4 linked regions of the Homo sapiens genome follow. The protein of the gene in region 3 interacts with the protein of the main gene of each other region in a biochemical or structural test. Each region holds a gene or a part of one and is shown on either strand. Other genes may lie near its edges. The genes, in order: RBX1, PRKN, UBE2R2 and CTNNB1.

Evidence for each region.
Region 1: the proteins of UBE2R2 (region 3) and RBX1 form a complex in vitro, tested with the Homo sapiens proteins (10 studies listed by BioGRID).
Region 2: the proteins of UBE2R2 (region 3) and PRKN form a complex in vitro, tested with the Homo sapiens proteins (one study listed by BioGRID).
Region 4: of the proteins of UBE2R2 (region 3) and CTNNB1, one has a biochemical effect on the other in vitro, tested with the Homo sapiens proteins (one study listed by BioGRID).

What each region holds. Positions count from the first base shown.
Region 1 is NC_000022.11:40,964,244-40,969,552, forward strand, and holds part of RBX1 (E3 ubiquitin-protein ligase RBX1), read left to right. Parts: intron 1-3,555; coding exon 3,556-3,641; intron 3,642-5,309. UniProt on the Homo sapiens protein: E3 ubiquitin ligase component of multiple cullin-RING-based E3 ubiquitin-protein ligase (CRLs) complexes which mediate the ubiquitination and subsequent proteasomal degradation of target proteins, including proteins involved in cell cycle progression, signal transduction, transcription and transcription-coupled nucleotide excision repair.
Region 2 is NC_000006.12:162,716,830-162,722,138, forward strand, and holds part of PRKN (E3 ubiquitin-protein ligase parkin), read right to left. Parts: intron 1-5,309. UniProt on the Homo sapiens protein: Functions within a multiprotein E3 ubiquitin ligase complex, catalyzing the covalent attachment of ubiquitin moieties onto substrate proteins. Substrates include SYT11 and VDAC1.
Region 3 is NC_000009.12:33,899,698-33,905,006, forward strand, and holds part of UBE2R2 (ubiquitin-conjugating enzyme E2 R2), read left to right. Parts: intron 1-476; coding exon 477-574; intron 575-5,309. UniProt on the Homo sapiens protein: E2 ubiquitin-conjugating enzyme that accepts ubiquitin from an E1 ubiquitin-activating protein, and catalyzes its covalent attachment to other proteins by an E3 ubiquitin-protein ligase complex.
Region 4 is NC_000003.12:41,227,005-41,232,313, reverse strand, and holds part of CTNNB1 (catenin beta-1), read right to left. Parts: intron 5,107-5,309; coding exon 4,962-5,106; intron 1-4,961. UniProt on the Homo sapiens protein: Key downstream component of the canonical Wnt signaling pathway.

The sequences.
Region 1 (5,309 bases), on a different chromosome or scaffold from region 3:
TAGTAAAAAAGATTTTAAATCATAATACTATTCACCTGTTACAGGGTAAAAATTACAGTTACTGCAAAGAGGCACTTATTTGTCTTAATTATAAAGTGGACCCAATTTTGTTAGCAGTATTTTGGGGCTTCATCTATGGGAATTGCCTTCAAAACCTACATGCACCCTTTGGAATATTCTCGTGGTAGAACTTTGTACCTTTGAAACAGGCTTTTTTAAAGACCAGGTGTCTAATGGAACTAAGTTTGATGAGTAAATTGAGTGTTGAAGTCTCTGTGTATGTGTGTTTTAAGTGTGGCGTATGTACTGAGATAAGATTATTTTTTAACATGGCTTATGCCAGAAATGTTTTGTGTAGCTTTATTGGACTGAATGGCCTTCCAAGAGTGTGACAGCTGTGAAGGATAACAAATATCAAATATGTTAGTTCTAGCATGTGTTAAAAATTCATTCTTTAAGCTGTAAAGTCCCAGTCACATGAGCTAAAATTGTCTTGTCAGGGCCTCCTGTGTCATGGGGACAGAATACTCACAGTTCCCAGCATGACACAGGGATAAGAGATTCTAGAGTCAGACCACCATTCCCTGTCTTTGTGACTTACTTGCTAAGTGACGTTAGGCAAGGCATTTAACGTCTCCAATCCTGGGTTCCCTCATAAAATGGGGCTGATAGTGGACCACATAAAATTGTAATCCGGATTAGATGATTTATGTTAAAATGTGATTAAACAACTCCCGGCACATAGTAAGCACAAGTGCTTGTTAAAAAAAATCTAAATAGGCCGGACGCGGTGGCTCACGCCTGTAATCCCAGCACTCTGGGAGGCCGAGGCGGGTGCATCATGAGGTCAGCAGATGGAGACATCCTGGCTAACACAGTGAAACCCCGTCTCTACTAAAAATACAAAAAATTAGCCGGGTGTGGTGGCAGGCGCCTGTAGTCCCAGCTACTCGGGAGGCTGAGGCAGGAGAATGGCGTGAACCTGGGAGGTGGAGCTTGTAGTGAGCCGAGACCACACCACTGCACTCCAGCCTGGGTGACAAAGTGAGACTCTGTCTCAAAAAAAAAAAAATCTAAATAAATACAAATTTGAGGTAGAGGTGTTACTGTGTAGATGGTGTTCTCAGTAGTTTTTCCTGTTGGGTTGCAACTCTTTTTCCTACCTACACTGGTTTTTTGTTTTTTTTTTTGTTTTTTGTTTTTTGTTTTTTTTTTGAGACGGAGTCTCACTATGTGGCCCAGGCTGGAGCGCAGTGACGCAGTCCCGGCTTACTGCAACCTTTATCTCCTGGGTTCAAGTGATTGTCCTGCTTCAGCCTTCCGAGTAGCTGGGATTACAGGTGTGTACCACCACACCCAGCTAATTTTTGTATTTTTAGTAGAGATGGGGTTTCGCCATGTTGGCCAGGCTGGTCTTAAACTCCTGACCTTGGGGCGATCTGCCAGCCTCGGCCTCCCAAAGTGCTGGGATTACAGGCGTGAGCCACCGTGCCCAGCCCCTACCCGCACTTTCGGGTACACCTTCTTCCATCTTTGTTGGGACCCTTTGGCCAGGCTCACAATAGACCATGTTGGCCATGGGGGAGCTTTAATCGTTCATGGGGATAAAGGAAGTATATTGGGCTCTTTGCCCTTTCTGGCATACAGACATATACTAAGAACCATGTTCCTTTATGTGGAAAGAAAAGAGAGTGAACATCCCCTTAAATTTGGCTAAGGAGAGATTCTCTGAGAGAGCCTGCCGTAGAAGAGAGCCAGCATGGTGTGGCAGAAGGCTCTGGATTAGTCCTGGGTTCTAGTTCTGGGTCTTCTACAAACCAGCTCCATGAATTAGGCAAGTCACTTGTCTGGGTTTCAGTTTCCTGTCTGTAAAATGAAGATAAAAATATCTGTCATGCTTGCCTGCCAGGGTTGATGTGAGGCCTCAAATGAGGTAATACATGTCAACATCTTCTGTAAACTGTCAAGTACTATAAATTTATCTTCTGTAAATTGTACTTTGACCGCTAAATATATCCATTAATACATCTTAGTAAATGTTCAGGGGTGCTGTCACCTCCCTGACACCTCCTTTACAGCCCCCTTTTCCCCAGCGCGTGGTATGCTCTGACTTAGTTGGGCTCTACCAGGACACCGTACTGCTGCAAAGTGCTCAGTGGGTGAGGTGGGAGAGGGAGAAGCTGTCGAATACCCTTCGGTGAGCCCGACCCCAACACCTGATGGTTAAGAAAAATGTCTCTGCTTTCTGCCTTTTGGAAATTTTGCTCTTTCTCTTTTTCACAGTGAGTTATACAAGAGTCAGCTGAAAAGGGATCTTCCAAAAGGCTGTCACTCTAAGAGAATATTTGTCCTCTTGGGTATCCCTAGTGTACTAGCTGTGGATTCCACTCTTAGTTACTGAATTATATTTTTGTCTTTGTCAAAAAACATTTCACAAGATAATAATCCATATTATATAATCCCTTAAGTTCCATACATACTTTGGGAGACGTACCGACCAGATTTCAGTTGTTATTAAATGAAGCTTGTAAAGCTTTTGTTGTTTTGTTAGGGTGAGTAATTTCTGCCCGTGCCCCACCACAGTGCACCAATCACAGACGAAATGAAGGAAGCACTTGCTGCGTCTGTCCTAATACGCACATGAGCAGGGGGAGAAGTGCTCATTGCAGAAGCATTGTGATTAGCATCTGCATGTCATGAGCCCACGCCAAAAAACTGCATGCAGATTGTCCTTTTCCCAAATCTAAGCAGACTTCTAGCTCCCTGTCAGTTACCAGTGTTCTTGATACTCTTGTCTTTTTACTTCTTGTCTTGATTATGAAATAAGCCTTTTGATGCTCTTTAGGCTGCTTGTGTGCCGTTTGTCCCTCATAAGAATACTTCCTTTTACCCCAATTTTCTTTTATCTCATTCCCTAAGACAAAGTCCCTCACCCATTAAAGGCACGTGAAGTACTGAGCTCTTGTAATATCAATATGTCTGTGAATAAATCTAGAAATAAAGTTTCTTTGACCAGAGCTGAGCTGGGTGTGGGGAGGTTGGGGAAGTGCCCGTCTCAGTTCTGGGTGGGCGGCAGTGACCATGCACTTCTCTACCAAGGGCTGGGGAGAAGGCTCTGCTCCTACAGGTCGCATTCTCCAGGGGCAGGAGGGTGGGAGGGAAGCTAGAGACCCAGAATGGGGATATTTGAAATCTGCATTGATGAGGGGCCTCCTTTCCCAAAGAAAGTGGAAGTATCCCCTTACAGGCTGAATGGGACCAAGGAGCCACATTCCACGTTCTCTTAAATAGAAGAGAGCTCAGTGCTGGCACATACTCCTGTGCTTCCTGAATGATTTCCTTTAGTAGTAATGACATTTCTAACAAATGCTTTGTTGGAAATACCCTTGCATCTAACCAAGATATAATCAGTTGTTGAACTTTTGCCTCTCGTTGTCTTCTTTTCTTTTCTTGCCCACTATATGTCACCCATGCCACTACCCTGTGGGACCTGTTGTCGCTCGATGGCTGAGCCTGCATAGAGTTATTTTTAATAAAATATATGTTTTCTTTCAGCATGCTTTTCACTTCCACTGCATCTCTCGCTGGCTCAAAACACGACAGGTGTGTCCATTGGACAACAGAGAGTGGGAATTCCAAAAGTAGGTATCTTTGGTTGTTTTGACGGGGCTTTTTGACTTGCCTCAGGCTGAAAGGAGCGTGGTCTTGGGGGATGGAGACATGATACATGCCTTGTTTTTTTTAAAACTAGTTTTTGGTTACTTAAGCTAGGACTTATCTATATGGAAAATGCACAAAGGATTAGCCAACATTAGACATTTGCAGCCTAGGGTTTCCCAACCTTTTTTTTTTTTTTTTTTTTTTTGAGACGGAGTCTCGCTTTGTTGCCCAGGCTGGAGTGCAGTGGTGCTATCTTGGCTCACTGCAACGTCCACCTCCCAGATTCAAGCGATCCTCCCACCTCAGCCTAGCAAGTGGCTGGGATTACAAGTGTGTGCCACCATGCACAGCTAATTTTTGTATTTTTCGTAGAGATTGGGTTTCACCATGTTGGCCAGGCTGGTCTTGAACTCCTGATCTCAACTGATCTGCCTGCCTCGGTCTCCCAAAGTGCTGGGATTACAGGTGTGAGCCACCGTGCCCGGCAGGTTTCCCAACCTTCTACGGTCTGTGAAAGTAGAAAATGTGATAATCTATGAACTCTTAAATATTTCCAGAATTACATCCTAATGAGGCTCCATGGACTACCTAATGTCAGGTAGCTTTGGGCTAGACTTGTATCCACTTATCATATTTCACTGGTTTATTTCACAGTGATTAATTCTGATATAGCATTTATGGCTATCCTGATTAGATTTTATTGTTATATAAATAAAACATGACCTGGTAAACTTTTAAAAATTTAAATGGTTGAAAGGGTATACCACAGAATATGAATTTCCCACTGTAGGCCCCTGCTCCGGCTTGCTGGAGCTAGCCATCAGCAACAGGACAGCTTCTTAGGAGATTTTCTGACTATCTCTTATATGTCCCGGTATTTACATGGTTGTGTGTATATATATATTTTTGTTAACATAAAAGTGAGTATCCTATACAGTAATTCACCTTTTTTTTTTTTTTCATTTTGTACATTTTGGAGATTTTCCATTTCCACAAATAACAAACTACCTCATTTCTAATGGTTGCAGAGTATTTCTTTATGTAAATGTACCTTAACTTTTTTCTTTTCTTTTTTTATTTGTTTGCATGTTTTTAACATTTTTTATATTTTTTAAAAAGTCAGTCCCTGGCCAGGCACGGTGGCTCACGCCTGTAATCCCAGCACTTTGGGAGGCCGAGGCAGGCGGATCACCTGAGGTTGGGTGTTCAAGGCCAGCCTGGCCAACATGGAGAAACCCCGTCTCTACTAAAAATGCAAAATCAGCTGGGCGTGGGGGCACATACCTGTAATCCCAGCTACTTGGGAGGCTGAGGCAGGAGAATACTTGAACCCAGGAGGCGGAGATTGTGGTGGGCTGAGATCGCACCATCGCACTCCAACAAGAGCGAAACTCCATCTCAAAAAACAAAGTCAGTCCCTATTGGTGGACATTTGTGTTTCCAGTTTTTCACTGATGCAAGCAATGTGAAGGGAGAAACATCCTTATACATGAAGCTTTGTGTAAATGTGTAGCTGTATCTGGAGCAGTAATTCCTAAAAGAGGAATTTATGGGTAAAGAGTATGGCTGGGCTTGGTGGCTCACACCTGTGATCCCAACACTTTAGGAGGCCAAGGTGGGCAGATTGCTTGAGTCCACTAGTTCGAGAC
Region 2 (5,309 bases), on a different chromosome or scaffold from region 3:
CTGCATTACCTTTAAGTGACCTCACAATAGGCAAAAATCAAGTTGTAGCTCTCTGTCATTCTTCCTTCATAAGGAAGTACCTAACCATACGTTCAAATGGTGAAGCATTACTGGTAACTGTGGTGGCTGAATAATGCCTCCTTGTCCCTGAAACCTACGACTGTTTCCCGATATGACAAAAGGGACTTTGCAGATGTGATTAAGGATCTGGAGACGAAGAGGCTATCCTGGTGGCTCCTGAATGTAACCCCATGTGTTCTTTTAAGAGGAAGGCAGAGCAAGATTTGATGGCAGTAAAGGAGAAGGCAATGTGACCACAGCAGCAGAGACTGGAGTGATGTGGCCAGGAGCCAAGGAATGCCAGCAGCCTCCAGAAGTGAAAGAGGAGTCTCCACAGGAGCTTCTATTAATGGAAGGGGCTAGCCCAGCGAACACCTTGATTTTAGTCCCTTTTAGTCACTTTGGGGCTGGGCACAGTGGCTCACACCTGTAATCTGACAACTTTGGGAGACTGAGGTGGGAAGATGACTTGAGCCCAAGAGTTCAAGACTAGTCTGGGCAACATAGCAAGATCCTGTCTCTACAAAAAATAAAAAATAAAAAAATTAGCCAGGCAGGTTGGCATGCACCTATAGTCCCAGCTATTCGGGAAGTTGAGCCCAGGAATTCAAGGTTGCAGTGAGCTGTGTTTGTGCCACTGCACTCCAGTCTGAGTGACAGAGGGAGATCTTGTCTCAAAAAAAAAAAAAAAAAAAAGTCATTTTGGACTTTGGGCCTCCAGAACTGTAAGAAAATAAATTTGTGTTTAAAAGTCACTAAACTTGTGGTAATTCGTTACAGCAACAACAGGAACTACACAAAAACTAATACAGTAATCTGGCCATGCCCCGATAGTGTATAATATTAAAGAAAGTGAAATTATGGTTCTAATGTTTGTTTTCCTGAAAACACTACTTTTATGACCAGAACATGAGCATAGTATGCTACCATTGAAAATTTATCTGACATAATTTGACACAAAAGTAGAATCCGTTTTAAATGTATTACCACAATGCATTTGTCCTGAAGATTGTGTTTATAACACATTGCTTTTCAGTATTTCCAAAACATTATACGCTTAACGCTGAAGATCTGAAAAACACAATCATAATAAAAGAAAACATCCCACAACCCAAAGATATAATTTGCCGGTATACTTCCTGATATTTTTACATATACAAATGGCCCCTAATGCTATCTAGTTTCCAGTTATGGTAACTAAATGGTCACATTAACACTTTTTAAAAAAGATCTTTCCCAATTATTAAGAACTCACACATATTTGTCCATCTTAGATCACTTAATCATCCTATCATCACTGTTTTAAGACAAAAAAAATCTTATTACTTCTAGGAACTTCATCTCAAATAGCATCCCCATCCCCTCTCTGACTGACTTTACCTGTATAACTTGCATTCTATTAAGCATAAGATGATTAAATTGGCTGCAAAAGCCAGAAGGGACTTTTAATGAATTTACACACTAAGAATTGTGACAACTATGTCTTGATCCAATATGAAAGTTTCTTAGATGTTGAATCTCCATTAAAAATTATTCCAGAGGCCAGGCGCGGTGGCTCATGCCTGTAATCTCAGCACTTTGGGAGGCCGAGACAGGTGGATCACGAGGTCAGGAGATCGAGACCATCCTGACTAACACGGTGATACCCCGTCTATACTAAAAATACAAAAAAAATTAGCTGGGCATGGTGGCAGGCGCCTGTAGTCCCAGCTACTCGGGAGGCTGAGGCAGGAGAATGGCGTGAACCTGGGAGGCGGAGCTTACAGTGAGCCGCGATCACGCCACTGCACTCCAGCCTGGGCAACACAGCAAGACTCCGTCTCAAAAAAAAAAAAATTTATTCCAGAACTGTCCCCCACAAAACAAAATAGAGTTCTAAAATGGGCAACAATGCCCAGAAATTGCCAGAACATAAAAAACAAGCACAGAGACTTGGTATAAAACTCAAGACACTGAGAATAAGATTATTTGGTGACTTCTTTGAAATCAAGATGATATAAAAGTCAATACCTATGTCAGAAGCTCTGCATGTAGTGAGACACGGCAGATGCCACACACACATACACACACACACACACGAGAAAGGGACAATGAATAATGGAGAAAACTCTAGAGAGGGACAAAAGGAAGAAATTCCAATTCCAATCATAGGTTGAGCATCTCACAGATTCCTAAATGAACAAGAGTGGAAAGCCCACAACAGATCTCTACGAAATATCACTCTCTGTATCATATGATTATGTCTAAATTGACTGCCCAATAAAACACATATACTTCCCATCTGATCCTATGAATTCAGACATATTCATGTAAAAACGTCTTTATATATTGTCACATGTAATTATACAAATTTGGTGAATATCAACTGGATCATGCAGTCTACATTTGTCTGTGGTCAGGAGCCCAGAGAAGCAGCACCTCAGAGAACATGACCTCACTTGTGCTTAAATCTGTACCTCTCACACTCTGGGAACTCACCAGAGAGCTATAAAGGACTTTCAGGAGAAAGGAGGTCGAATTTCAAGGGTGGAGAGAAGACCCAGGGCACAGGGAATATTATTCTTAAATCTGTCTAATTCTCCAAGGAGCAAACCTAACTTGCCCCCATCCTCTAGCTGCCCAGAGTTCATCATTCCTCAATTTTGTTTCAATGGAAAAAAAAAATTGTAATCAGGACTGGATTTGCCTGGAAGGAAAATGCAGAGCCAGAGACTACAAAGATTTCCATTGCAGACAATTCCCAATCTAGGGAATGTCTCCAGTAGGAGCTGTGGTGAAGCCTGGTCTGTTCCGGTCAGGCCACTCCTGTGATAACCCTCAGAAACATTACAACCCACAGTCAAGCCCTGTGGCAACAAGTAAGGAAGAAATTCACCTGTTGTTCAGACAACAGCTGCTCCTTTGAGCTGAAGAATGAAATATTAAATTCCAGCTTCTGAGAAAATCAAGGAATGTGGGTAAGAAAAAAATGAGGGGACAGAAAAGAGGGAGTGCAGGTAGATGTCAAAAAAAAAAAAAAAAAAAAAAAAACTAAAGGTTGACCTCAGAAACACAGATATTACAAATGTTCCTTCCTATTTCTCCATTTTATTAATACGAGCAAGTTTCAGGTGTCTACTTCCTATCATTTCATGATCTGGAAAATGGATCTACTCTGCGGGTACAATAAGCTTTAAAAATGACTACGCAGTTACAGAGGGCTTCATCACAAGATCTTATTTATGCACTGAAACTCCAAAAATATCTCACAATAGGAGTAACTGGCGTATTCAACAATTATGTAAATAAATAATAAAAAGTCTCAATCAGGACACCAATATTAACTCCCTAATCACCAATTTTCCCCCTCATTTGATGAGGGTAGGAGTAGAGATGTGCAAAATGGGTGAGGCTGCTAACTATTGAACATTCTCTCCTCCAAAGTTAAGGGCTCTCATGTGAAACTTTATGGGGGCCTCTGTTCAGGTCTTACAGTAAAAGTAAATTGGAGAGAATCATCAAGAAGCCATCAATACTCTTAAAAATACACACATCTGTCCATAGATGGTCTTTTTTTTTTTTTTTTTTTTTTTGAGACGGAGTCTCGCTCTGTCGCCCAGGCCGGACTGCGGACTGCAGTGGCGCAATCTCGGCTCACTGCAAGCTCCGCTTCCCGGGTTCACGCCATTCTCCTGCCTCAGCCTCCCGAGTAGCTGGGACTACAGGCGCCCGCCACCGCGCCCGGCTAATTTTTTGTATTTTTAGTAGAGACGGGGTTTCACCTTGTTAGCCAGGATGGTCTCGATCTCCTGACCTCATGATCCACCCGCCTCGGCCTCCCAAGGTGCTGGGATTACAGGCGTGAGCCACCGCGCCCGGCCCATAGATGGTCTTAATATGTGCCTAGGTATATGAGTCATGCAGATATCTAAGAGGAAGAAACTATTCTGCACTATTCTGGGTGACACGATATCCACAGCTCTGATGACATTGTTCTCTCCACACAGAGAAGAAACTATAAATAGAACCCTAAGCATCATGTTCCACATATCAAAGAAGGAGATACAAACTATTTTTGGAATACAAATAAAGCTTTAGTAACATGAAATAAAACACCTGTCAATAAGAGACATTAATCTATTCTACAAAAATAAGAACTTTTTAAAAAGAAATATGGCCTTTAATCAGAGATGATGTAATGACATATCAAATCAATGTCAACACCCTGAGAAAAGCCATCTCCTACTGCACAATTACCCTGCCATTCTCAGTCGAAGACTGTCCTCTATTAAACATTATCTGGACTTCTTTCCTTTGTTTTATGGAGTGAGTTTATAAACGCTTGTTCTCCGTAACTAGTGATTTCAAGTATTCTGTTTTATCTAAGAAGTACAATGAAGGTCATGAGAAGTCCTCTATTAACACTTTATCTGGACTTGCTGGCACTAGTGTAACTATTTTCTACAACGTTCTATTTCATAACTTTCTAGTACTGCCACAGACATCTTTCTAAAATACAACCTGTTCATAATGCTCTTTTGTAGATAATGGTTCAGTGACTCCTCCCTATCGCCAACTTTAAACCTACCTCCTTGACAAAGCTTATCTGGTGTGCCTGCAGCCTCACCAGATACCTTTCATTCTATTCTCTTCTCTCCCCTCCATGCCTGTCTAGAAGGCCGCCTTCACCTAGTTAACTCCTACTTGTCCTGCAGGAAAACTGGAATGGCTCCACTGGGAAACAGCTGGATCTTCCAAGCTCTATAGGCTGAGTTTTCCAGTACTTCCTTGTATAAACCTATATTATGATACCCACCTTTCAGGTTTGTAAATCTTTACTTTTCTGTACCCCTTCTAGACTATGAACAAGGACCTGATGAAGGGTAGTTACTAAAATGTTGGCTGACTCTAAAGGAGGTGCTAATTGCCTCACACTAAAAAGAGGGTAAGAGGTGACATGGAAAATTTCACATAAAGTTGGTGCCATTGGAACTGGATCTTGAGTGATGAACAGTAGTTTTGAGATGTTCAACAGAAAGAAAGGGCATTCAGATCAACGAGAATCAAATGAACAAAAGAAACATGAAAAATCACGTGTTGCAGGCATGTATGTGTGTGCTGATATGTACATACATCTTTCTAATTACTCTTCTTCTGTGGTGGTGAAGGTGCAATCTATACCACCAATATAAGCCTAATCAGCCCAACTAGGCCACAAACTTATTGGGAAGAAATGGTCATTTCTATGTACCTTCCCCACAGGCAATATA
Region 3 (5,309 bases):
GGGTTTCGCCATGCTGGTCTCAAACTCCTGACCTCAGGTGGTCCACCCGCCTTGGCCTCCCAAGTGCTAGGATTACAGGCGTGAGACACCGCGCCCAGCCCCAGTCAATTTTTTATCAGGATTGTACTATAGGAATAGTAAGTCTTCTCACTAGAAAATATACCTTGGAGATTGGTCGAAATAAATATTATATTTTAATGTTCCTAAGTAAACATAGGGATCGTTTGTTTCATCAGGATTGTTCTATAGGAATAGTAAGTCTTCTCACTAGAAAATATACCTTGGAGATTGGTCAAAATAAATACTTTTAAAATGCTTAATTATTATTTATCTTTGATGTTGAACATAAAAAGCAGAATTGTTTTCTCCTTTGATGAAGAAACAGTTTCTAGGAATAAAGGAAACTTTAGAACCGATGTCCCTTTTTGTACATCACTTTTTGAGTATTTACTGAATGTAATGTTTGTGTCTTGTAGAATGGAGATGTATGCATTTCGATTCTTCATCCGCCTGTAGATGACCCACAGAGTGGAGAACTGCCTTCTGAAAGGTGGAATCCTACTCAGAATGTGAGGTAAGGAGGAATCTGGTTTTGGAGTTATTCTTAATCTCCTTATTGTCTTTGCTCCTAGTAAAATAAAATTATGTATTGTCTTTTAACATGTAAAAAATCATCTTTCTTATATTCAGTTTCTTTGTCTTTAGCTAGAGCTTTAAGAAATATGTATGCGTCATTTTGAAGAGCTGTATTTACTAAACAATAATGTATATGATTCTCATTTCCCTATGTTCACTTAGGAATAGATTTTCAAGCCTGAATCCCTACTCTTAACTTATCCTAGTTCTACTCTGGTTCTTTATTACCACCTAACATTAGTGTCATTCATTGGTTGCAGTTAATAAACAATGTTAATTCATTATAAGTAACTGAAGTCCATACGCTTTCACATTTCCTTTGTTTTTACCTGTCGTTGTTTTGCTCCAAAATATTTCATACATATAAATATATATCTATATATGTACGTGTATACATATATGTATTTAAATTTTTTGTAGAGATGGGGTCTCACTAAGTTGCCCAGCTGGTCTCAAACTCCTGGCCTCAAGCAGTCCTCCCCACTTGGCCTCCCAAAGCGCTGGGATTATAGGCATGAGCCACTGTGCCCTGCTCATCACATTATATTTAATAGTCATGTCTTCATGGGCAACTCCTCTCTCTCTCTGTCTCTGTCTCTCTCTCTCTCTCTGTTTCTGTCTGTGTCTCTGTCTCTTGTCTTTGAGACAGTGTCTTCCCGTCACCCAGACTGGTGTGCAGCGGTGTGATCACAGGTCACTGCAGCCTCGACCTCCTGGGCTCAAGTGAGCCTTTCACCTCAGCCTCCCAAGTAGCTGTGACTATAGGTGTATGCCACCATACCTAGCTATTAAGCAACTCTTGATTATAAATTTTCTTGTTTTTGATGACAATTTTGGGGGGTACTGATCAGGTATTTTGTGCAATGTCCCCCAGTTGAGATTTTTCTTATGTGTTTTCTCATGATTAGTCTAGGGTTATAGGTTTGGGAGAGAAAGACCAGAGAAGTAATGTGCCATTTTCATTATGTCATATCTGAAGTATTTACTATCAGTGTGGCTTATCCCTGTTGATGGGATACCTTTCATCACCTGCCTGAAATAATATTTTTAGCTTTTCTCCACTGTAAAGTTGCTCTTTCCTGAACTTTTCATTCTGTACTCCTTGGAAGGAATATGCATAGCCCACAACTAAGGAGAGGGTGGCTATACCTCCTTGAAGCCAGGGTATCTATATAAATTATTTTGAATTCTTCTGCATGGATTGATCTATTCTTCCCCTTTATTTGTTTATTCAATCATTTGTTAAACATTTTTACTGATACAAAAACTAATAACTTGATTAGAATCTCCAGGTTTATCAAAAGTGAAGAATTGGAAGCTTCCTGACTTGTAATAGAAGCTCTTCAAGATGTGTCAAATGACTGTTGATTATGTTTGTTACTCATTCCTTTGGGTACCTTGTTCCATCCAATTTATTTAGAAAGAGTTGAGAAAATAGATATATTAAAGATTTCAGCATATCTTACCAATATATTTTTTAAGACAAAAAATGTTACTTTCTTTCTAAATTCAAATAAATGTGTTTTTACACCTCACCTTGACAACCATCATCCCTCTGAATGTTTTTTTCTCATATTTCTTTTTTTTTTTTTTTTTTTAAGACAGGATCTTGCTCTGTCGCCCAGGCTGGAATGAAGCGGCGCGGTCACGGCTCAGCACAGCCTCAACCTCCCGGGCTTGAGCAATCCTTCCACTTTAGTCTCTTGGGTAGCTGGGACCACAGGCATGCATCACGGTGTCTGCTCAAGATTTTGTATTTTTTTTGTAGAGAGATGGGGTTTTGCTTTGTTTCCCAGGCCAGTCTCAAACTACTGGGCTCAAGCAATCCACTTGGCCTCCCAGAATGCTCAGATTATAGGTGTGCCCCAAAGCACCTGGACTAATTTTTAAGTTTTTTGTAAAGATGGGGTCTCACCATGTTGCCCAGGCTGGTCTGAAACCCATGGGCTCAAGTGATGCCCCTGCCTCAGCCTCCCAAAGTGTTGGGATTACAGGTGCTCACACTACACCCGCCTTCTGAATCTCTTATCTATACAAGAATAATACCTACCTCAGTAGGTTGTTGATAGAATTTAAGTGAATAATGCATGTAAACCTACTAGAATGGTGGATATTACCTGGCTGGCTTGGGTTGCAGCTATTATTTTCAAGGAATTTTTTGGGTCTAATGTGAAGCAGTCATTTGCTATCTATTAGAAGAGAAACACATTTCTTAGTTCCTCATATTTATTTCATTTTGCTACAGGGAGACATAATTGCTAGATGCCTGTATCGTAACCAGTTCAAGTAGTACATAATTTATCTTGGGTTCTAAATACATGAAAAGAACTAAAATAATTGTTTTGAGCTGTTTTTGAGATATTCTGTAATTGAGAATACGCTTTCTTTTTTTGAGGGGAAAAGTGTCCTACGTAGCAAATTATGTATACATGAATTATCTCGATAGACTCAATTTTAAATTAGTATTAAAAATTCTGAGTTGTAGGCCGGGCGCAGTGGCTCACGCCTGTAATCCCAGCACTTTGGGAGGCCAAGGTGGGCAGATCACCTGAGGTCGGGAGTTCAAGACTAGCCTGACCAACATGAAGAAACCCTGTCTCTACTAAAAATACAAAATTAGCTGGGCATGGTGGCACCTGCCTGTAATCCCAGCTACTCGGGAGGCTGAGGCAGGAGAATTGCTTGAACCTGGGAGGCGGAGGTTGCGGTGAGCCAGGATCGTGCCACTGCACTCCAGCCTGGGCAACAAGAGTGAAACGCTGTCTCAAAAAAAAAAAAAGTCTGAGTTTTATGTATTCTATATTACTCAAGAGTATGTTTGAGGGTGCTACGTCTTCAGAAGTAATTGTAGCACATTATTTTGACATTATAATTAGACAATGTGTATAAAAGTTTTTAAAAAATATTTTGGATGATTTGTTGAAAAAATTGCATCCAAAAAAATCCCCAGTTGTACTTTAATAATGATTCTGGTGCATGGATTTTCAGGACGAGTAATAACCCTAGATTAGAGGAAGTGGTAGCTATAATACTGGTGATTCTTGGTTTTGCTGGTTGAACGTTGAATCAAATGCTTACACCCTCTCCCTATTTGAGAAAATAAGCTTCCCCTTTCCTCAAATACAAAGCCCCAAACAAGATTTTCCTCATTGCATTTTTATGCTGCTTGGCTGGATAATGTATTGCCACCACCCATGGGAATTCAGGCTTTTTATCCTTTACTTCTCTTGCATTTACACGCAAATGATGTCATTTGCCTTATCTCAGCTTAAAGTATTATGAACATTTTTTCTTTTAAAATAGGCCTACTTCTCATGTAATCCAGTCTTTTGGAGGCAGAGGATTCCTTTTATACTTATCTGCCCATCTGAAACTGCCTTTGTTACTTTGGGTACTAGCATCATTTTGTTTCCTCACACTTGAGTCCCCAGGCCACCTGAGCCACAATTTAGGGACATTCCCCATACTCAAATCAAGATTGTTTTCCCTGCTTTTATGCTGCTTTGTTTAGAAGCTTCCCAACTACAACTAGTTATGTGGAGTTACACCTAACATCTTCACACAGCTCTACAAGGTATTTGGGTTGGAAATTGTTTACCTTCTTAGACTTTTTATCACTTAGTTCTATGTAATCATTGGGTAGTCCTTCAACATTTTGATCTTATTGGTGTTTTCGGGGGCTGTGGGATGTTTTGTACACTTTTTGGAACCTCACCTGTCTGGAATACCTGGTGGTGCTCAGAACTCTGAGCGGAAGTCAGGAAAGCACTACCTAATGAGCAGATGTGGAATACTTTCGCTTATCCCTTTTGTTTCTGTGTTCACTTGGTTGTGAGACAAGGGAGGTTTTAAAGTAGTAAACTGTTATATTTTCTAACAGGTCATTTATGGCACTGAAATATTAAGAGGGAAGATACAAGATGTAGTGGAAATGGGCAACTATTTTCCTTCTTGTACCTCTCTGCTGCTAAATTATCTAGGGCCAGCAACTGTCTAAGGGTTCTGGGCTCCATGTCCAGTTTATGGGTGGCTGTAGTAAGACAGCAGTGGAGATGGCATAGGGTTCATCTCATCCTGTTTTGGAGTCTTATCTGCTGCCTCTCACTGGCATCTGAAAGTGATTCCATATTCACGTATTTGGTTTTCTTCTCCATAACCACGTGTACTCAAGACTATTGTTCAGCACCTCAATGGACATATTTATAACATAAAGTGGCAAATGGAGCACTTTTGTAACTTGAAGAATAAGGGACTCCAGTTACCTTCAAGAGTCTAAGTCAGTCTGTATTATCAGATCTGGTGAGTAGTGAGAGTTAGCCAACCTGAAAAGGAAGAATTTTAGGGATGCAGAGAATCAGCCAACTGGTGTTCACTAAAGGCTCGGTAGCTTGCTACCTCTTGGGAAAACCAGCATACTTCTTTTGAAAGAAAACATCCACAGGCCTCCTCCTCCCAGAGGCCCAGGATTAAATTGGTGGGGCTGGAGGTGGTGGGGAGAGTTTCTTCCTGAATTGGAAAGTTTTAAGGAGTAGGCATTTGTCAGCAAGAATGGAGTTGGGAGTTGCCACACGTCTTTGATTAGAAGTTCACAGCATTATGCCTCTTCCTGATGGAGGAAACAAAATGTGCCTTAATACATGATTTGTCTAGAATGATGTGGGAGCTTTGGGGAT
Region 4 (5,309 bases), on a different chromosome or scaffold from region 3:
TGCTCAGTATTTGTGAAATGACTACCTTCTTTCCCCTCTTTAAGACTTCATTCCCTCCCTTTACATAACTATTAACTCTAAGAGAATGGATTTTAACCCCAGATGTCCATCAGAATGGCCTACAGAGACTTTAAAACACACACATTCTGATTCAGCAGTTCTAGGGTAAAAAAAAAAGTCCCATACAGATGACTCTGTGGCACCTCTACCTCCCCTTCCCTGCTGCCCTTACCCCTATATACTAAGAGGGAAACTTCCAAATCTCTAGCCTGCCTCTCTTGCATTCTAGTATCATACATTTCCAGCTACCTACTGACCTTTTAAGTCACTTTAAGTCAGCTTCTTAAATTATTATGTTCAAAAATTAAGGATGCCTTCTGAGGGTTCCATTTATCTTCATGGTACCAATGTTGTCCCCTCCACAAACCGTTTTTGGTTGCTCCCTTAGCTCCTATATTATTACATTCTATGATTCTTTCAGGCATCTCAGACATCTGCCCTTTGCTATTGAGTTCTAAAAGCAAACTATTTCATTCCTAAAAGCCTGTAACATCTCAGTAGTCTGGTCTTCTAGCTTTTGGTCATTCAAACTGTTAATCTATACAATGCTATTATTAATATTTTAAACACACCACTGTGATGCTTTGCTATTGATAAACAACCATCGAAAGTGTCTCAGCATCCTTTTAAGATAATAGAAATACTTTAGTATAACCCTGAGGAACCGTTTAGAATTTGGATCCCACCTAGCCTTCCAAACTGACCAAAGTATTCTGTATCTATGGCTCCAAAGCTGGAATAAAGCATGAATAAACTCCATGAGTAGTAACTATCTTATAGGAACCTAGAAAGTCCTGCATGTTATGGCTCTGCTTACCTAACCTCAACCTCATACCAGGCCATCCACCTCATTACTAAGTTCTGTTTATGCAGACCTTCTCTTCAGCACCTGGATCTCCACAATCTCTTTCCCTTTTTTTTTTTTTTGAGATAGAGTCTCACTCTGTCGCCCAGGCTGAAGTGCAGTGGCGCTATCTCAGCTCACTGCAAGCTCCGCCTCCCGGGTTCACACCATTCTCCTGCCTCAGCCTCCCAAGTAGCTGGGACTACAGGCGCCTGCCACCACGCCCGGCTAACTTTTTGTATTTTTAGTAGAGATGGGGTTTCACTGTGTTAGCCAGGCTGGTCTCGATCTCCTGACCTCATGATCCGCCCACCTCAGCCTCCCAAAGTGCTGGAATTACAGGCGTGAGCCACCGTGCCTGACCAATCTCTTTCCTTCTAAGGCAAGCTTGTCCAACCTGCAGCCCATGGGCCACATGGCCTAGGACAGCTCTGAATGTAGCCCAACACAAATTCGTAAACTTTCTTAAACATTATGAGATTCTTTTGCAATTTTTTTTTGTTTTAGCTCATCAGCTATCATTAGTGTATTTGGTGTGTAGCCCAAGACAATTATTCTTCTTCCAATGTGGCCCAGGGAAGCCAAAAGACTGGATATCCCTGGTTCTAAGACATAGCACATGGTGTTCCTTTTCTCTACCTGGAAAACGTTTAACCCTCACTTCTCATATAGACAAGAGACGGTTCCCTCTCATCCTGCAGTCCCACTTAACATCCCCTTTTCAAGGAGACCTTTTCCCTCTCATCTAGACAATTCCCCTCCCCATTAATTCTCATCACTATTTGCTGTCATTTCTCCCATAACACTCATTCTAATTTAGGATCACATATTTTTAAGTATTTTTGTCACCTTCACAAGACTAAGAATTAAGCACGGGGACCCTATCTGTTGTGTTACCCAATGTATACTATGTGCCTATTCCATTTCTTAAAATACATTAGATGCTATTTTCAGAATAAACAAATGAACATAAGAATAACCTGGAAGAACTTAAAGATTCCTAAGCTTCCAGTCCCATACATGTCCAGCTATCTACAGACCTCCCTGTCACTTCAAATAAAACACTATGAGATCTTGATATAAAAATTAACACTCCAGGGATTCTGATTAAATAAATCTCAAAATCTGTATTTTTAGCCTACATTACAGGTTACTGCTGGAACAGCTGACAGAATTTACATCCCATCCCCTCATTCTATATGAACTCAGCCACATTTGTCTATCCCCAAGACTATGGTTCCTCTGCCAGTAGTTACCTGGAGCAATCATAATGTCTTTCTCTCTCATAAATTCCCAAGTAAAATTACTCTCAATAAGTGAGAAAAGTAAGTGTTGCCAGCCCTATACTTTATTCCCAACATTTTCTTCCATTAAATGCCTTTATATTTTTCCTTCTTTCAATACTGATTTGAAGCTTGCTTTGAAATTCTGAGTAAATGTTGTTAGGTGGGTTACTGAAAGGAGAAAAAATGCTTGGTAGCTAAAAAGTAACTGTTTTCATGACACACACACACACACACACACACACACACAGAACCCAAGAGGCCCTAGTACAAACCATCTATTCTTTTCCCCAATTGCCAACATACACAATATACAAAGTACCACATATAAGTTGCCTTCTTAAAAATACTCAGAATAGAAAAAAATTGTTTCTCATACTTAGACGACATCTATTCACTGAGAATACAGAATATCAGGGCAAAACACTGCTCATAATCAGGCAAGAGAAAGAAAATGCATCCAAATAGGAAGTCTGTTTGCAAACAATATGATTCTATACCTAGAAAACCCCATAATCTCTGCCCAAAAGCTCCTTGATCCAATAAACTTCAGCAAAGTTTCAGGATATAAAAATCAATGTACAAAAGTCAGAAGCATTTCTAGACACCAACAACATCCAAGCTGCAAGCCAAATCAAGAATGCAATCCCATTTACCAAAGCCACAAAAAGAATAAAATACCTAGGAATACAACTAACCAGGGAGGTGAAAGATCTCTACAATGAGAATTACAAAAAACACTGCTCAAAGAAATCAGAGATGACACCAACAAATGAAAAAACATTCTATTTCATGGCAGGAAGAATCAATATTGTTAAAATGGCCATACAGCCCAAAGCAATTCACAGATTCAATGCTATTCCTACCAAACTACCAATGGCATTCTTCACATAATTAAAAAAAAACTATTTAAAAATTCATATGAACCCAAAAAAGAGCCTGAATAGCCAAGGCAATCCTAAGCAAAAAGAACAAAACTGGAGGAATCACTTTACCCAACTTCAAGCTATACTGTTAATACAAGGTTACAATCACAGCATGGTACTGGTATACAAACAGACACAGAGACCAATGGAACAGAAAAGAAAGCCCAGAAGTTAGGCCGCACACCTAACAAGTAAACAAAAACAAGCAATGGGGAAAGGACTCCCTATTCAATAAATGGTGCTGGGATAACTGGCTAGCCACATCCAAGATTGAAACTGCACCCCATCCTTACATGATGTACAAAAATCAACTCAGAATGGATTAAAGACTTAAATATAAAACTTAAAACTGTAAAAACTCTGCAAGATAACCTAGGAAATACCATTCTGGACATAAGACCTGGCAAAGATTTCATGACGAAGATGCCAAGAGAAGTTGCAACAAAAACAAAAACTGACAAATGGGACAGTATAAAGAGCTTCTGCGCAGCAAAAGAAATCAACAGAGTAAACAGACAACCTACAGAATGGGAGAAAGTACTGGCATGGGAGAAAGTACTGGCAAACTATGCATCTGACAAAGGTCTAATATCCAGAGTTTACAATAAACTTAAATTAACAAGCAAAAAAGAACAACCCCATTAAAAAGTGGGCAAAGGACATGAACAGACACTTTTCAAAAGAAGACATACAAGTGGCCAAGAAACATATGAAGAAAAGCTCGACATCACTGATCATTAGAGAAATGCAAATCAAAACCACAATGAGATACCGTCTCACACCAGTTAGAATGGCTACTAATAAAAAGTCAAAAAATGACAGATGCTGGTGAGGTTGCTGAGAAAAGAGAATGCTTATACACTGCTGGTGGGAAAGTAAATTAGTTCAGCCATTGTGGAAAGCAATTTGGTGATTTCTCAAAAAACCTGACAGAATTACCATTCAATCCAGCAATCCTATTATTAGGTATATGCCCAAAGAAAAAGAAATCTTTTTACCATAAAGACACATGCATGCATATGTTCACTGCAGCATTATTCACAATAGCAAAGATATGGAATTAACCTAAATGCCCATCAATGGTAGACTAGATAAAGAAAATGTGGTACATATATACTATGGAATACTAAGCAGCCATAAAAAAATACCAAGATGTCTTCCTCAGCAACATGGATGGAGCTGGAGGCCATTATCCTAAGCAAACTAACATAGGAATAGAAAACCAAATACCACATGTTCTCACTTATAAGTGGGAGGTAAACACTGAGTACACACGGGCACAAAGAAGGGAACAACAGACACTGGGGCCTACTTACGGGTGGGAGGTAAAGAACTGAAAAACTACCTATTGGGTACAATACTTACTGCCTGGGTGACAAAATAATCTGCACACGAAACCCCTGTGACATGCAATTTACCTATATAACAAGCCTGCACATTACCCGGAACCTAAAAGTTAAAACAAAACAAAAACTGCTCATGAGCATCTACTAATAAAGCAATCACTTTACATAAAACTGTACTATATTAGAATTTGTCTTTTCTCCTATAAATTCACAGCTCTGTTAGCAAATCTTAGGTTTACTCAAAACTGAAATTACAAACAAATTTTATTAAGCAAAACATATGCCATCATTTTTGATGGATAATAAGAACTCTACCTAAACTAGCCTTAAATATTTAGCTACAATCCAGATGACAGGTACTCTGAATGTAAATCTTGGCTGCAAACTGAATAGGACCATTTATTTTCAGTAGTTAAAGTTCTACCACCTTTTCCTAAGAAAAGTAATCTAATTAGAACTGCAGATGCTATACACAAGACTCAGAATAGATACATATACTTACCAGCTTCTACAATAGCCGGCTTATTACTAGAGCAGACAGATAGCACCTTCAGCACTCTGCTTGTGGTCCACAGTAGTTTTTCGTAAGTATAGGTCCTCATTATATTTACTAAAGCTTGGGGTCCACCACTAGCCAGTATGATGAGCTAGAAAGATATATATATATATCTTGTTAGTCAAGGAATCTTGATCACATGTCTGAGAAGAGCCATATTACCAACCTATTTTATTATACAAGAATTTCAGCCAGCTTGCCATTGGACCTAAATGTATTCCTGGACCCCATCACTCAGACCCCCATACTGGGGCCCTATCCAACTTGTCCTTTTAAAGCATTCCACTCAAATTC